4 separate regions of the Homo sapiens genome follow, and all the other regions are reported to be linked to region 4. Evidence: microRNA targets listed by miRTarBase, many of them from high-throughput screens and not tested one by one. Region 4 holds a microRNA gene; each other region holds the end of a gene's coding sequence.
Evidence for each region. The annotated mature microRNA hsa-miR-6842-5p reads UGGGGGUGGUCUCUAGCCAAGG and lies in region 4 at 1,220-1,241, opposite strand. An mRNA with a match to its seed (bases 2 to 7 or 8) in the 3' UTR can be bound and repressed. Matches are read on the target gene's strand: a 7mer-m8 pairs with bases 2 to 8, a 7mer-A1 pairs with bases 2 to 7 and ends in A, and an 8mer does both.

Region 1: the mRNA of ZBTB46 is a reported target of hsa-miR-6842-5p. Seed matches in the 3' UTR shown: 7mer-m8 at 966-972 and 7mer-m8 at 2,111-2,117.
Region 2: miRTarBase lists RCE1 as a target of hsa-miR-6842-5p. Seed matches in the 3' UTR shown: 7mer-m8 at 3,156-3,162 and 7mer-m8 at 3,149-3,155.
Region 3: miRTarBase lists NLE1 as a target of hsa-miR-6842-5p. Seed matches in the 3' UTR shown: 7mer-A1 at 990-996, 7mer-A1 at 3,352-3,358 and 8mer at 3,714-3,721.

The regions. Positions count from the first base shown.
Region 1 is chr20:63,743,557-63,747,765 of GRCh38, reverse strand. ZBTB46 (zinc finger and BTB domain containing 46) reads left to right here. Exons shown (of 5, transcript NM_001369741.1): 5 at 465-4,096. The coding sequence ends at 836. It overlaps SLC2A4RG (SLC2A4 regulator), which reads right to left. Exons shown (of 8, transcript NM_020062.4): 8 at 3,716-4,209. It overlaps ZBTB46-AS2 (ZBTB46 antisense RNA 2), which reads right to left and starts at 3,941. Exons shown (of 3, transcript NR_186425.1): 1 at 3,038-3,941; 2 at 2,091-2,238; 3 at 1,815-1,943.
Region 2 is chr11:66,845,389-66,849,597 of GRCh38, reverse strand. RCE1 (Ras converting CAAX endopeptidase 1) reads right to left here. Exons shown (of 8, transcript NM_005133.3): 7 at 4,036-4,098; 8 at 3,046-3,738. The coding sequence ends at 3,503. It overlaps PC (pyruvate carboxylase), which reads left to right. Exons shown (of 23, transcript NM_001040716.2): 22 at 228-368; 23 at 451-1,178. The coding sequence ends at 699. Among named protein-coding and RNA genes, the nearest start is that of RCE1, 4.1 kb to the right of the region's middle.
Region 3 is chr17:35,129,227-35,133,404 of GRCh38, reverse strand. NLE1 (notchless homolog 1) reads left to right here. Exons shown (of 13, transcript NM_018096.5): 11 at 1-66; 12 at 164-234; 13 at 956-4,178. The coding sequence ends at 968. It overlaps FNDC8 (fibronectin type III domain containing 8), which reads right to left. Exons shown (of 4, transcript NM_017559.4): 3 at 3,747-3,983; 4 at 2,673-3,123. The coding sequence ends at 2,971. Among named protein-coding and RNA genes, the nearest start is that of FNDC8, 9.7 kb to the right of the region's middle.
Region 4 is chr8:27,430,616-27,434,615 of GRCh38, reverse strand. MIR6842 (microRNA 6842) reads right to left here and starts at 1,246; the gene lies at 1,182-1,246. PTK2B (protein tyrosine kinase 2 beta) reads right to left here. Exons shown (of 31, transcript NM_173176.3): 8 at 3,600-3,740; 9 at 3,144-3,218; 10 at 2,255-2,356; 11 at 1,064-1,181; 12 at 484-523; 13 at 57-103. RefSeq lists an enhancer at 3,565-4,000.

The DNA.
Region 1 (4,209 bases), not on the chromosome of region 4:
GGGAGGGGCACTGCCGCCCTCGTGCCAGCATCCCCTTGGGACAGGGCTGCCTTGGTGCCACCTGCAGTTCTGCTGTGTGGCTCTGATAGGAGCTGGGGCTCAAGGTCTGAGCACTCCTGTCTGCGCACCTCCCCCACCAGGAGTCTCTGCCTGTGCAGACACTCGGAGGGCCCGGGAGGCTGTGCCCCCCCAACCCCAACCGGGCCCTGCTCACCCCCGCACCCCCCCCACCCACCAGGCCCTGCTCACCCCCTGGCCCCCCTCCCAACCTCCACCGGGCCCTGCTCACCCCCTGCCCCGCCCCCCCCACCTCCACCAGGCCCTGCTCACCCCCTGCCCCCTCTTCCAACCTCCACCTGGCCCTGCTCACCACCTGCCCCCCCCACCTCCACCAGGCCCTGCTCACCCCCTGCCCCGCCCCCCAACCCACCAGGCCCTGCTCACCCCCTGCCCTGCCTCTGCAGGTCCACAGCAAGGACAAGAAGTATGTGTGCAAGGTGTGCAGCCGCGTCTTCATGTCCGCCGCCAGCGTGGGCATCAGGCATGGCTCCAGGCGCCACGGTGTGTGCACCGACTGTGCTGGCCGCGGCATGGCCGGGCCCCTGGACCATGGCGGCGGAGGCGGCGAGGGCTCTCCAGAGGCGCTGTTCCCAGGCGACGGGCCCTATCTGGAGGACCCTGAGGACCCACGAGGGGAGGCGGAGGAGCTGGGCGAGGACGACGAGGGCCTGGCCCCTGAGGATGCGCTGTTGGCGGACGACAAGGATGAGGAAGACTCGCCGCGGCCGCGCAGCCCCCCAGGAGGCCCTGACAAGGACTTCGCCTGGCTCTCCTAGGCCCGCCCGCCGGCAGGGTCGGTGGCTGCCTCGCTCCGTCCACCCGTGTGTGTGTCCGGTGGGTCTCCACTGCGGGGCCAGGGCCACGCTCACCCCTCTCGCGGCCCCTCCTCTGCTTCCCCCTGAACCCACCCCCCACGGAAACCAGCCCTGCGGGCTAAGCAGGTGCGACCCCAGCAAGAGGGGTGCTCTGGGACCAGACATGAAGTGAGTTGGGGGAGGGCACAGGGTGGGTTTGAGTGAAGGGAGAGCACGGTCCTAAGTCCCCAGCAGGTGGTGCGGGTGTGTGAGTGGCCCCTGTGATGGCCAGCCTGGCTTGGACACGTGATGGGCCTGTGGCCGGGTCCAGTGGGCACTGGGCGGGGTGGTGTGTTCGGCCCAGAGGCCCCTGGCCTGAGCAGGTGCAGAGTTTTACAGACACCCGGTCAGCCCGGCTGGAGCCCGCCCTCCCCTCCCCTAGCAGCCAGGTCACTGCCTGTGGCTGCAGCCGTGGCCCGTGGTGCAGCCGTGGCCCATGGCAGCCTGTAGAATCCAGGTGCACAGAGAGCCCTGCCACCGTCTTACCTCTGGGCTTTGGTGCTTAACACACAACACAGCTGCAGACCCTGCTGGAGGCCGAGGGCTCCAGGTGCTATCTTAGGTGGACACAGCCCTGGGGGCTCCTTCCAGGAGGGGACCCTCAGCCCTGTGCCCCCCACCACTTCAGGCCACACCAGGTTCCCTCTGCAAGGGCCTCGGCTCAGTCGTGTGCACTTCCTCGGAGAGCCTTGGGCTGCCACGTCCACCCCGGGCTCTGCCCGTCCTGTTCTGCCCATGGCCCAGCCCGGCCGCTCCTGCTGACCCCTCCTGGACGGGCTGGAGCTGGGCTCCTGCCTTTGCTGCTAACACTGGAGGCGGTGTTCCTAACTGCAGTGTGCTGCTTACACCTCCCCGCGTGGGTAACCAAATTTTTAAGTAGTCAGAGACATATCGAGGTAGTTACATAAAATTATTTTGTTTGGCATTATTTTTCTCACTCGAAGAAACTATATAGGGTTGTTTTTCCTTTAGCTTGTGCTCAAGTCCTCTTGCTGTGTTTTCAGAAGCACTCACATGTTCTTTCTTTTCCTGAGTGAAAAGCAAAGGTCCCACGGTGTGTGCTGTGGTGCACCGCCTGGCTTTGGGGGTCCCGGAGGCAGGCTGCCTAGACTCACAGCCTCGGGACCGTTGCCACGGCCTGTCTTCTCGTTCAGGCCTGCCTCTGACAGCACTCACCATGAGGACATTCCATCCTTCACCCCCTCCTCTGGCACAGGCCACCACTGCGGTGCTGTGCCTTCAGATGGGAGGTGGGCGCGGTGGCCTCCTCCTTCCCTCCAGGACCTGCCCGTGTGAAGACCCCCCGGAGTGCTGAGCTTCAGGGCTGCGTGGAAAGAGTTTTTACTCTCTTTTTCTAGCCTGTATACCAGGCTTTTCCCCACATTGTCAGGTAGAGCACCAGCTTCCCTGACCGCTGCTGCTCGGGGAGGGCTGGGGCTGGCCGGGGGTCCTGTGGAGGAGTACATGGAGGACTCCAGGTACAGCGCAGGAGTCACGGCTTTTGTTTTTTGACATTGGCCCCCGGTTCTACCAATGACAGGGTGCCCTGGCTGGAGCTGTCATCACACACACCCCTCAGCTCGGAGGCTGTGGGCTCCTCAAAGCTGGAGAAAGAGGCCAAGATTTTTCTGCACACGGAGTGTGGGGATAGGAGCCGGGCCAAGCGCTGGCCCCTCAGCGGTGAGCCCTGCCCACTCTTACCGAGCAAGGTGGGTGGCTCTGGCACGAGTCCCCCAGGGGGAGAGCATGGCTACCAGGGAGCTGCAGCGGAGCCCTCCAGCCCTCACCCCAGGCCAGCCCCACCCCGGCCTCTTTGAGAATTCTCAGAACTTTGTACCTTTCCCCTGATTTTTAAACCCTTTTTCTAAACAGACTGACTTTCTTACAAAATGCATTTGGAAACCAGACCTTTGCTACCCACCAATGTCTCTGGGTTTTGTACCAGTCCCTGCTCTCAGGCCACCCTGCCCAGGACCCAGGCCCGCCTCCCCCTCCACACTCAGGATGTCCTGCTCCATCTGGCCGGCTCACTCCGTGTGGCCTGCCTTTGCTGACCGTTTTGGGGTTCCCCGCCGGAGCTACAGGGGCATTTTCTTCCCTAAAACCAACAGTGTCCCACTGACCTCCCCAAGTGTTTGCTGCGTGGCAGATTTCCTGTTCTTGTTCGCAGTTTGCCGACTGAAGAGTGTGGGATTTCCGAGGCCCAGGTGAGCACGTCCATCTCAGGAGGCGTGGAGGGAAAAGACATGTCATGAAGGGTTTTTTTTATGTGACTGATTTTTTTTTAAATCGATGTTCAAACTAATAAATATTTTTTTATGAAGAGGAAAAATGTGTAGATTACATTTCACATTTTGTATTTTTGTTTGTGTCTGTTTGTATTTTGGTGTTTACAACACCAAAGTGGGAAATACAGTCCATTGGGGATGGTGTTATTTGGGGGCGGGGAGGGGGCAGGGACACCACGATTTTTCTGTCAAGCTCTGGATCCTGACCAGGTTGTACACTGGGGCTCTCTGAGCTTTGGGACACAGGACACTGCCAGGGCTACGTAGGGAACTGACTCAGAAGACGCAGCTTACTGCTTCCAACTTTGCACATCTTCCTCTTTAAAAAACTGAGAAAATGCAAAAACTGGAACTTTTTGCAATATTATAAAAGAAGTAATCTTATTTTAGCTCATTCTGTGACATGTGCGACTCTTAAGAAAGCCATACTTAATGGTGGTGGTTTTTTTTAGATCTTATATTGTGTTTTGTATGCAGCCCTTTTAGAACTACTTGTAGTGAGGGTGCTGTGTGTGCTTTTCTTAAATATTTATTTTTTTCAACATGCTTTCAACCTGTCAACAAAAACAAAACACACAAAAAAAGGGCAGTGTTTGAAGATTGTTGATTTTTTTCTGGGGATAATCTATATTATATTGACTTCCTATTACTTATTATAAACCTGTGTTTGTATTGGAGATGTGTCTACTATTGGGGGAAGAGGTTCTCGTAATCGCTCGGTGGGAAATCATGGCTCTGCCGTCCTGCCTCTCTGTGGCCGTGGGTTCACGTGGCCTCTGCGGTGAGTCTCCAAGTTTCTGCCTAGGCGCCTGTGCGTTTCCTTTCTGTGACGGGATTAGCTTAGACATCCTTGCAAAGCGATCACTTTCAATAAATTGGGAAATTGCTGCTCCAGCAGATGCCTCCTGCGTCTCAGATGATCCTTCCTCCGGCCTCGCCTGGGGTGGCGGCGGCCGACGGGTGACCCTCGGCCCTCTGTGGGCAGCTGCCAGACTCCACCCACTTGC
Region 2 (4,209 bases), not on the chromosome of region 4:
GCGCTTCTCCACACTCCACCCTGGCCCCCTGCCCCAGAGCTCTGGAGTTTAGCTTGGCTGTCACCCAGCCTCGCAAGCTTTGGGAGCAGAAAGGACCCTTGAGACCGGGAGCTAGGCCTTTAGGAACGAGGAGCCAAGGCCCAGTGTGGGGACTTCCTATGGCCAGGGCCGGGGGACTGCTCTCCCACCTTGGCGTCCAGCTCTGAGTCTGCACACCCTCCCTGCAGGTGGAGCTGGAGCGGGGCAAGACGCTGCACATCAAAGCCCTGGCCGTGAGCGACCTGAACCGGGCCGGCCAGAGGCAGGTCTTCTTTGAGCTCAATGGGCAGCTGCGGTCCATCTTGGTCAAGGACACCCAGGCCATGAAGGTATTGTCTCCCCCAGGGCCAGCCAGGCGGTGGGGCTTGGCTGGGCCCAGGATGTCATGTCCCCTCTGCCCTGTGTCTTCAGGAGATGCACTTCCACCCCAAGGCCCTAAAGGACGTGAAGGGCCAGATCGGGGCGCCCATGCCTGGGAAGGTGATAGACATCAAAGTGGTGGCAGGGGCCAAGGTGGCCAAGGGCCAGCCCCTGTGTGTGCTCAGTGCCATGAAGATGGAGACTGTGGTGACCTCACCCATGGAGGGTACTGTCCGCAAGGTTCATGTGACCAAGGACATGACACTGGAAGGTGACGACCTCATCCTGGAGATCGAGTGATCTTGCCCCAGACCGGCAGCCTGGCCATCCCCAAGCCTTCAACAGAAGCTGTGCTGCCACGGCAGGCCCAGGCCAGCCAGTGCCCGAGGCCAGGAAGGCCGGGCCGTGGAGGTCCTGTCCACAGCTGGACAGGAGAGACACCGCCTGCGGTGGTTCATTCCTTTCAGCCATCGTCCTTTCCTCCGGCGGACAGCTGCTTACATGTTCATCTCTTGCCAAATAAGGGTCCCCTCCTCACTGGAGACTACAAGTGGTGGGTCAGGTGGTCCTAGGACCCAGGGGAGGTTTAGGGGTCCTATCTCCTGGGGGAAGGGGAGATCTAAGATGTCCCAGGTCCTGGGAAGTTTACTCAATAAAGCTGGCTTTCCCCTGCCCTCCATGCTGGATCCTGTGCAGCCCCCAGCCTGCACCACTCAGCAGTGGGGGGCTGCCTTTCAAGCTCCCCATGGGTGGGCAGGTCAGTTGTGTCGTTCTCCTCAGAGGGTAGTGAGAATGACCATCGTGGCCCTGTTTTAAGTCACTATTGGGTGCCTACTGTGTATACTCCCCAAACAGGACTAGTAGTACTGAACTTGCTTGAGGGGTGGGGCCTGTTCTAAGTATTTAACACCTATTAACACAGGGAATTAACCTTCATCCTCTTATGGACACAGAAATCAAGTCACAGGAAGATTAAATAATTTGTCCAGGACTTCACAAGTAGTAAGAGAGAGAGATGAAACCCAGGCCGTTGGCAGACTCGCCTCCCAACCCCGCTGCTTTATTTTCTAAAACCCAAGGCCAGCGTCCCACCTCAGTTAGCAGGTAAATGCAAGCAGGTACCACCTTGTGGGCAGTGGGTAAGACCCTCGGGAATGGTGATCCGGGAGTCTTGTGTGTGCTCTGGATGTGAGAATGTTGGTGGGAGGTGAGGGGGAGCACCGGGTCCAGGGTCTCAGGTTCTAACCCTGCCACTCCCCATGACCACCCCTCCAGACTCCTGCTCAGTTCCCTTTCCTGCAGTGGGGACAGTAACCCTGCCTGCACCACTGCCCTCCTGCCCACCTGCCCACAGGTAGGGAGAGGATGGTGAAGGGAGCAGGAGGCTGGGCAGTTCCTGAGATGGAGGGGTGGGTGTGGGGAGGCCGATGCAGGAAATCAGCCTCTGGATGGGAAGCACCCAGCAGGCCTCTGCCCAGTGCTCCCAGAGCCAGTCCAACCTCTGGGATGGGCAACTCACAGTGGGCTTGAGCCTCTTCCTTTCTGGACCGCCATGTCCTAGATGTACCCCAGGAGGCAGATGACTGCGATGCTGCCCCTTCCATCCGGGTGGATGTCGTTGTCATGGCCAGCCTGCAGGCATCGTGGGGGAGTGACCGCACATCCTTTTTCCCTCAGTGGCCAGCCTCAGAGAAGGGACCTTGGGACAACCTCCTTGATTGGGGAATGGGACCTAAAGGGCTTTCTTCCCTCCCCCGCCCCCCCTGCCCCCCACCCCGGAGATGGAGTCTCGCTCTGTCACCCAGGCTGGAGTACAGTAGTGTGATTTTGGCTCACTGGAATCTGTGCCTCCCAGGTTCAAGTGATTGTCCTGCCTTAGCCTCCTGCCACCACGCCCCGCCTATGCCCGGCTAATTTTTTGTATTTTTAGTAGAGACGGGTTTCACCATGTTGGTCAGGCTGGTCTCGGACTCCTGACCTCAAGTAATCCAGGGCTAATACTCTTTCAGGAATCTAATTTTAAAAGAGCACAGGCAGGGAAACGAGAGCCCTTCCAAAAATGATGGAGAGCAGGCAGAACACTTGCAGGTGCCGAGAAGGACCCTGGAGTCACTGTGTTGCTTGGCAAAGTCCCTGCTGCCCTCAGGGCTGCAGCCTGTGTTCTGGGTTCCTCTGGGGCAGAGGTCAGAGGTGGAGAGAACCAGAAAAGCCTCTACTTATGGTGACTCAGGGACCTATTTCCTCTTGTGAAAAACAAGACTGGCAGACTGTGGAGGTCCTGGCAGAGGCTTCAGGCCAGTCATCTTCCCCTCAGAGGAGATACGTCGGAGGCTCCATCGCTGAGGTCAGGGCCAGGGCCATGGTTCCCACTCCCTGACCCGTCAGCCAAGGCACAGGCCCCAGGATGAGCTGGGCTCACACCTGGTACCTGCAGTCTCAGAGCCAACCACACTAGGACTTTGGGGCATGGTTCAGGAAGGAGGAAGCCACAGGCTCCCAGCAACCAGAGCTCCCAGCCCATCCTGTACTCCAGGGAACTACCCGCCTGGATGCACCGCCCAGATGTCAGTGTTCAAGGTAGCTGGGACAGGTGGTGGGCACACTCCCAAGAGCTGCCTAGAGTCTTCACACAAGATCCCAAATAGACCGATTCCCAAAGGCCCAAGGCCATGTTACCCAAGTTAAATCTCTTTAATATCCCAATACAAAGTACTGATGCAAAAAGACAATGAGAAAACCCAGGAAGTTGGGGGGTGGGGGGTGGGGAGAGGTTTTATAAATAAAAAACCCCGAGCAGCTTTTCAGAGGCAGAGGAGCTAAGAGAAGCAGCAGTCCAAAGTGAGGAAGGGAGTGTGTGGCTCCTGGGACCTGCCCCTTGTCCCCTCACTCACAGCTGCTCGTAAACACCCCTTTCAAAAGGGGCTGCACCCTTTGGATATCTGCTTCTTTCTCTTGGTCCCTGGGACGCAACTAGCTCTGGCTTCAATCCCCTACAAAAATTCCTGAGATCTCGGGGACCCCAGCCAGCCCTTCCCCTGCAGTACCCCTTGGTGGGGAGGGCTGGGGAGCCGGTGAGAGTTCATAGCGTATCCAGGAGCATAGGTCAGGAGCACAGGGGAGCCTCTGAGTCCCCTGCCCGCTCCAAAAGCACACAAAGGGGAAGGCTGCCGTAGAGCTTGGGGTCCGTGAGGGGCTGGAGCAGAAGCAGGAAGAGTCCCACACCCAGGGCATAGCCTGCCAGCAGGGGCCGCCTCTGTGGGTGCTCCAAGGCCGCGCAAACAGCTGGGAAACCCATGTAATTGCAGAAGGAATGGCAGAGAACCGGCCCAATCAGGTGTCCTGGGGAAAAGAGACAGCAGCTCAGGGAGCAGCCCTACCACCTCCTCTGGCCCTTCCAGGGCTAGTGACCCTCATCCCCTGAAACAGGAGATCAAGATCCCACTACCCCAGCCATCCACCCACACACCACGGCCTCTGCTCCTTTCCACCTCTCAGACCTCACCAGGCTGAGGGCTCTGGCTCAGCCTGTCTCAAGGACTGGAGTAGAAGAACTTTTGTTCCTAGAACAAACAGTATTCCCATTCTCCCACCCGCTCCTGTGGGCCCCCAGGGACCCATGAGGGACTGAGGACCAACCTGTGCGGATGAAGAGGAAAGCAGTGTAGGCACCGAAGACAGCTGTGTAGGAGAACTGGAACGCTGGAGACGGGGAGGCCACGAGTGACCACACCTGCACGCCCTTCCTGCCCCCACACTACATACCCATCAGCCAAAGACCGACCATCCCCTCCCCCCGGGGCAGTAGCTGCC
Region 3 (4,178 bases), not on the chromosome of region 4:
ACACTGAAGGTGTGGGATGTGAAGGCCCAGAAGCTGGCCATGGACCTGCCCGGCCACGCGGATGAGGTAGGGCCAACCCTCAGGCAAAGGAGGGACTGGGATTGGAGCCTGGCTGGCTGTCTCCCTCTCACCACCCCACCTGCCTTCCTCTGCCTCCCTTTAGGTATATGCTGTTGACTGGAGTCCAGATGGCCAGAGAGTGGCAAGTGGTGGGAAGGACAAATGCCTCCGGATGTGAGTGTGGGGGAAGTGGTGGTTGGCATACACAGCCCTCCTACCCCTAAGGTCCTTCTGTGCACACTTTCCCTTACAGCATAGAATTCCGCAGGGCCGTCCAGGTGCTCAGACTGTCTTGAGGAGGCGTGTGGAGCCAGATTCTCAGTGGGCAAGTGGGAGGGCCACAAGTGGGAGGGCCACCGGAACAACAGAGGCCACAGGACACCTCGTAGAGGGCGCGTCCAGGTCTTTCTGTCAGTGGGCAAGTGGGAGGGCCACCGGAACAACAGGGGCCACAGGACACCTTGTAGAGGGCGCATCCAGGTCTTTCTGTCACTAGACTTCAGAGTCGCAAGACCTGAGTTCAAATCCTGGTTCTGCCATGGAGTAATCACAGAGAACTTGGTTAATCAGTCTCTTGGGAATTATCAAACCTTCACAGACAGGATCAAAAATAGGAGGGTCAACACTCTGGAAGACAAAGTGTTGTGTGCTTATAAGGGATTGTGACTGTTTGCTGGTGGGCATCCCGAGGGCCAGGCCCTGGGTGGAGGTCCTGGTGGCAGCAGGCAGTGAGTGGGCAGCCTGAGTTTGGGTGGGCAGAGCAGGGACGGTCACCTGGCTCTTGGTGACTCTGAGGGTGGACCACAGGCCGTCCGTCTGTTGACACTGGGATTATATGACGGCCTCCCTTTCCTAAGGTGGAATCCCCATCCTGACACCCTTCCCTTCTCCACAGATGGAGGAGATGAGACGGCCCGAAGTTCTCTCTGACCCCCACCTCGACTCGGCCTCTGCCAGCTGCCTTCCCTGCCAGAGAACAAAGGCTGAGATGGCAGTGCACACACCCTCCCCACCAGTGGGGACCTGAGAATGCGTGTGGCCTGCTGTCCTCGATAGACCGGAATGGGGTTTTCCCACAGATCCCCGCCTGTGGCACACCCCAGAGCCAGAAATCGAAGGTCACAGGAAGTTGTCACTGAACTTGGCCCGTGTCTGCTACTCTGTACCTTGCTGGTACAGACAGGGGTGGTGGGCAGCCAGGCTCTATGAGTGGGCCCCTAGTGTCAGCTCTGTACAGGGTCAGATCCCAGGTTCTATGACCAAATAAGTAACTTAAGTTTTGTGTGTTGGGTTCTAATTCCTTGTCCTAGAATCCCCATGACTCAATCAAGGACTGTGCTAAATGAGATTGTCCAGCCCCCGCCCTTGCACTGGACTACGCCAAAACCACACTGACCAGGCACTTGCCTTCCCTCTCTTCCCCCGTGTTGGTAAGAGAGAGGCCAGTTGTGATAGTGGCCAAGGAGAATCTAGGGCTGTATTGTTGTCCACTGCAGTAGGCACCGGCCACATGTGACTGCTGGCATGAAATAGAAGTGCAGTTCCTCCATCGCACTGGGTAAGGCCTCCAGTATTGGACAGCACACAGAAAGGTTTTCATCATCAAGAGAGTTCTGCTGGTCAGCCCTGCTCCAGGGGATGCCTCTGCCTTCGCATAGCACACTGCTTGAGGCCCTGCCAGGCACCAAGCACTGCCCTGGGCCCATGGGATAGAGCGGGGAAGGTGATGGCTCTTCCAGAGGATTCCCTCAGATGGGGAGGCAGCAGTATGAGCTCTGAGCAGAAGTGGGTATTGTTGATACAGAGGAAGTTCTTTGCCACGAGAACTTTCAAGCAGTGAAAGGAATTCCCATCAGGACTCAGACCCCAGGCCGAGATCTTGCCCTGAATGTACCCTGCCTCTGCTTTCTCCTGCATCCCATGCTAAGCAGGGTCATGGTCTGAACTACTCAGATTGGATTTCCAAACCATCCTTGTATAAACTGCTCAGAACTAGCATCTTGCTCCTTCTTACCCTCCTCCACCCTTGTCTGTGCTTTTGGGTTTTGCGCGTCACCTAGCTGTGGTGCTTGGCCTCCACCTTGCACATATCTGCAGTGAGGCTACATAAGAAGCGAACAAAACTATCAGCCACTGAGCTCCTTGGTGCCAGCTGTTTGTCTGCTGTGCTCTCAGACTGCACCAGGCCTGGAAGGTTCTCAAGCTCCAAAACTTTTGATGAGGAAACAACATAAGAAATGATTAGCCCATGCCCTCACATCTAGTAAGAGAAAGCTGGGATTAAACCAGGCCCTGCCCCAAAGCTTATTGTGCACTTTGTACCACATCCCTCCGTCCAGAGCTCAAGCTAGTTTGACAGTTCATGGGCCACCACGTCTGTCCATGACAGCTATTTCTGTATTTTTCTGGTGTAAGAGCCTTTTAGTCTTAGAGCACCAGTCTCCCTGTTCCCCTACCCCGCCCCACTGGGGAAGGGGTGATGGCAGCATCCTATTGCCTAGCTGCCTGTTTTCTATCTCCCCACCCATGTAGACTCTGTCCTGGTGGAAGCTAGGAGGTGGGTGCCAGCCAGCCCATCTGAGGCTGTCTGCAGCATAAAGCAGACTTTAGGGTGCTGGATGACCTGCAGTTCTTTAATGAGGGACCTAGACCCAGCCCAGATTTGGAGGAGGAGGGAGTCTAGCAGCTGTGGGCAGTGGCTGAGCCTGGCATGGCCTGGCCTGAGATGCCTCCAGGTGAATGGGGCCCCTATGTAGCCTTGGCCCCAGCCCAGGGGTGGGGTGCCCATACCACTCTGCCAGACCCCGGGCCCGCAGGGTGCTGGTGGTATGGTAGGTCTCATGGCTCTGGTTTCTGAGGGCCTGGGGTTGAAGCTGAAAGTAGGTGAGGGGTGTCCTGGGGCCCTCCCCCTTAACAGGGAAATAGGTATTCCAGATCCTCCAGCCTCCGCATCTCCTCCGGCCCGATGGACACGATCTTTTGCCGGGGTTCCTTGCGCCGCACGGTGATCTGGATGGGGTAGTTCTCAGGAAAGCTGCTGAAGTCAGTGGCCAGGGTTGCAAACTGAAGTGAAACAAGAAAACCCTTCAGAGTTCCTTCCCAGATCTGAACCTGGCTCTCTCTCTGTCTCTATCACCCCTTTTTTTTCTGTCTGCTGACTCAGACCTTAAACAGCCTTATCCAACCTAGCCATTGACGCAGGAAACAGGTGCAAAGATGCATGACTCAAGCCTGTACCTCCTCATTATGGGATATTTCCAACCAAAGGGCTGTCTGTACTCAGGCCTCTATACCCCCATACCCCTACCCCATACCCAGGCTGTTCCCTTCTTCGTCCCCCTTTAGCCTCTTGTCTTCCCTATTTCTTTCAATGCCCTTGACTTCCCAGCCTACTCACAATCATGGGCACTGAATTGCAGAGTCTAAAAACCAATGGCTTTGGAAGGGGAACATTATAGTGATGTTGAAAAATACATTCGTTTGCATTCCTAGTGGGCCCCAGAGTGGCTTAATCCTTAAACCTCCCAGAAGCATGCATTCTGGAATTGATGCTTCTTGACCCAGGCAGAAGGAAAGCTAGCCAGATGAGTCATGTGGGCATAGGGGTGTTCCCAACCTCCAAAGCCCTGGTTCCCTGGCTTTGGACTTCTCTCCACCCCCAAGGCCCCTCTTTTCCCAGGGCTCACTTTGTAGGGCTTGCACCACTTCCCCACCCCAGCTGTGTTGGCTGCACGGACACTGAGGCAGTAACACGTGTTAGGCTTTAGCTCCATCAGCTTGACAGTAGTGCCCAAAATCTTGTTGAAGATCCATGGACGATTCTTTGCCTCGGGCAACTCATTCTCCTGTGTCTTGGCCACCTCCTGTAACAGGAGCTGGTAGAAACTGACCGGCTGCTTGCCCAAGGCGTAGGTCCAGGAAATCTAGGGGAAGAGAGAGCCCCGAGGCTTCCTCAGATATGTCCTGTCCTTCCTGTCCCTTCACCCTCCCAACTGGGGTCAGGACGTCCCATGCCCATCCCCTGCTCCTGCTGGGGCCCAGGCAGGTCAGATGGAAGGTGCAAGGTACTGCAGCACTGAGTGTGGAACCCCTGCCCCGAAGCATGTACTACTCTCCTG
Region 4 (4,000 bases):
GGAGCAAGCAGACGGGAGGCAACTGGAGCAGGTGGAGGATGCAGCGGGCAGCTCACCTATGCTGCAGCTCTCTGAGAGGTGGGACCGCCGGGCCTCCAGGTTTCTGTAGGAGGTGAGAGAGCAGAAGCCAGGTGAGCTCAGAGGCCGGTAATGTTCCCCTGGGCAGCCTCGGCCCGCCCTCTCCTCCTGCCCCCTGTGGAGAAGTAGTCTGTCCAAATTAGCAATGACCTGGGAGCACAGCCCAGGCTGCTGGGGGCTGGAGTTGGGGGACAGCAGCAACCCCCCAGGATAACACCAGGTGGCATGAAGGCATAGGAATATTCCTGCAGGTATTTATTGGGAGGGAAAGATCATCTTTTTTCAGGGTTCTCCTGGGCCTGAAAGCCAGAAACTATGGAGGTGGGGACTCCCAGTTTATTCTTATTCCTCTCAGCAGCACAGGCTGAGCTCAGGGCCCTGTCCTCTGCACCCCATTGTACTCACAGCATGGGGATCTGGGGCAGGCTGTTCCGCTTCTCACCATCTAGGAAGAGAGGAGGAAGGAGGAGGTTGGAGCTGGGGACACAGGGACCTGGATGGGTGACTGACCTCCTCACTATTCCTACAAGGGACTCTCCTCCCATCCCAGCCCCTAATTCCATTCTCTCCTAGCCTGGGAGCTAGTGAGGCCTTGGGCCAGAAGTGGAATCCTCCTTGGAGGCTGCCTCAGGCCAGATTTCACGTGCTCCAGCTGTGACCCCTGCTTCCTGAATCTGACCCAAGATGGAGACACACACAGGCGGGACCAGCCTTCTACTAGCAATGGCTTTGAGCTTGCTGGGGCTAAAACGCCTCTCCTCCAGAAGCTGCCTCTATGTGGACCTTGATTAGCAGGGCTGTGGGTAGGTGGACCGGCCAGGGCTTAAAGCCTAAGATGGGCCCACTGGAAGCTTCCCGCTGGGCTGTGGGGGAAGAATCCTCATTCACTTATCCATCAGTGGCTTAGCTTCTGCCACTCCGCCTCTGGGGACTCGGGTGTGCTGCCACCCGTGGTCCAGCCACTTTACCTTTAAATGGAACCCACCTTTCCTAGGATGGATGATGAGAGAGCCTTGGTGCTCACCCTGCAGCCGGCAGTAGCCGTCTATGAGGTCAGCCATGTTCTCAGCCTCTGCTAGGGATGAGGTTTTGATGGACAAGGCCTGCGGAGCAGAGACCAGCCAAGGGTGAGACCCCAGAGCCTTGGCTAGAGACCACCCCCAGGGCTGGAGAAGAGATGGCAGGACCCCTGCCACAACCCTTGCCTGGATGCCAATGCTGTCTGCACCTCTCCTGGGGCCCTGCCCTGGAGTCCAGACTGCACTCTGTCACCCCTTTCACCTGTACGCCCATGCTCTCCAAAGGCCAGTCCCAGGCCTCACTTATTTTGGCCTCTGAGCACATAGCACGATGCCTGGTACCTAGTAGGTGCTCAATAAATAGAAGCAGAAACTGAGAAAATGGAAGAGGGGGCTGGGCACAGTGGCTCATGCCTATAATCCCAGCACTTTAGGAGGCCGAGGCAGGCAGATCACCTGAGGTCAGGAGTTTGAGACCAGCCTGGCCAACATGGTGAAACCCTGTGTCTACTAAAAGTACAAAAATTAGTTGGGCCTTGTGGCATGCACCTGTAGTCCCAGCTACTCAGGAGGCTGAGGCAGGAGAATCTCTTGAACTGTGGAGGTGGAGGTTACAGTGAGCTGAGATTGCACCACTGCACTGTAGCCTGGGTGACAGAGTGAGACTTTGTCTAAAAAAAAGAAAGAAAGAAAGAAAGAGGAAGGGGAGGCAATGGGGCAGGGCACAGATGGGTGAAAGGAGAGAGAGATGCAGCCTGAGGTCTCTCTGGGTGTTTTACTGTAAAAAACAAACAAACAAACAAACAAAAAAACCCATGTTTTTGAGGTCTTGATGTCCGCATCCTTGTTCTCTTGGTATAACTTAGGCCTGTGATTTATACCTGATTTCTGGTCACCTTGAACATTCCACTACCTGAAAACCTTCCCAATTTCTTCTCCTGACATTAAAAAAATTGTTTCCCGAATTTTCCTACAATTTATCATCATCCTGGTACCTTTTGTCTAAGAACTTGGTGCAGTTTTCTTAACACGATCCCCAAAGCCAGGAAGCTCCTGGCTTCCTGTGTGTCACAGACTTTTGGTCTGAGCAAGAGCTCCCAATCTGCCATTATACCCCCTGCAGAGCTGCCAGGTGCCCAGTGCCCAGAGACACTCACCTGGGGGGCACCTTCAATGCCCAGCTGAAGTACTGCCTGGCCCTCCTCCAGCGGGAGGCACCTGATGGACCTGATCTGCTTGAACTCGGCCAGGCAGGTGGGCTGTGGGAAAAGAAGGGGGAGCTTCAGACCATCCCACTACCAGGACTAGGCCATGCAGATTGGTCAGTATGGGGGAGCCGGGGTGAGGAGGAACTGGGAGTTTCTCTGGGAGATGAAGAGAGAATCAAACACTATTAAGGCTAGAAGGATCCTCTAGTTCAGGGGTGTCCAATCTTTTGGCTTCCCTGGGCCACATTGGAAGAAGAATTGTCTTGGACCACACATAAAATACACTAACACTACTTGATGAAGGTAAAAAAAAAAATCGCACAAAAAAATCTCAACATGTTTTAAGAAAGTTTACGAATTTGTGGTGGGCTGCATTCAAAGCCATCCTGGGACCACAGGCTTGATCTAGACCAAGCCCCTCCCTATGCCAAGGAGAAAATGAGGTCTAGAGAAAGCCAGGACTTGCTCAACATCATGTGCCAAGCTGGCAGTGGAGCCAGGACTGGACCCAGGTCCCCTGACTTCCAAGGGAATCATGCCTTATATTGTCACTGAAAGAGCAACACTGCTGAGCTCTGCGAGTAATCATTGAGGCCTTGTCTCCCCCTCCCACCACCTCTGTGCAGATGACAGTCACAGGGATGTAAAGGGCCATCTGTCCCATGCTGCCATCTCTAAATGCTCTCCACTGCTGCTCACGCCAGGGCATGGCCTTAGAAGAACTCTGCTTTCAGCAACAGGGGCAAGAAGAACTGAAGGGGCAGACAGGGCGGGAGGCAGCAGAGAGGGGACGACCTCCCCGCCTGGGGCTGGGTGGGGCTGCCCCGGGTCTCTCTACCTTTGCGTCCTGACTAGTCAGCTGGCGGATCCCTTTAGGGCCAATGACCAGGTCCACAGTAATGTTCCATCCTTGCTGGAATAAAAGGAGAGTGGACTGTTGTTCCAGAGCTGTCCTCCCCATTCTTCAGAAACTTGAAGAAAAGCTCCCTAAGCTAGACACAAGCCACTGTTTCCTGGGTCTCCAGCTCCTTCTCACCGAAACCCTGGCCATATGGATCTTCCCCTCCTGACACCTTGCCTGTCCTGCCCACCTCCCAGAGCTGGAGGCCAACATTTCAGTGCCTGCTTCAGGCAAGGGGATGCTTTTGACTTCCACCGACGGCAGGTCAGCGAGGTCCTGCTGCCTGAGTGAGAATCTGCAGCGATTGCAGCCTCTCCCTGCCCCCTCCTGGCCCCCTTTTCCGAGAGGCCTGGAATCCAGGTCAGGGAGAGGATCAAGAGAGCCCGCCATTACAATGAGTTCACAGCGGTAGGTCTCCTGGTCGATGTTGGCGAAGCCGGCGAGAGTGTTGAAGAACTTCATGACGCACTCCTCCTCCCTGAGCGAGGCGTACTGCTGGAAGGTCTGCTGGATCATCTTCCGGAACTGTTTGGGCTGGGGGAGGGGATGGGCCGTGTGAGCAATGCCTGCTCCTCCCAGGTCTCACTCCTTCCCTTAGGGTCTCGCTGAGAGACTGCCCACTGCTCGAAAATGATCCCCAGGGCCTTTGCCCCAAAAGCAGCTGTGATCTATGACCTAAAACCCATACCCATTGTCTCAAGGGAGACTCCCCGTAACCCTACGAAGGAGGTTGAGGGGGCGAGGGGTAGCTTCCCAGTACTGGGGCCGCAGAGCTGATACGGCCTCGATACGGA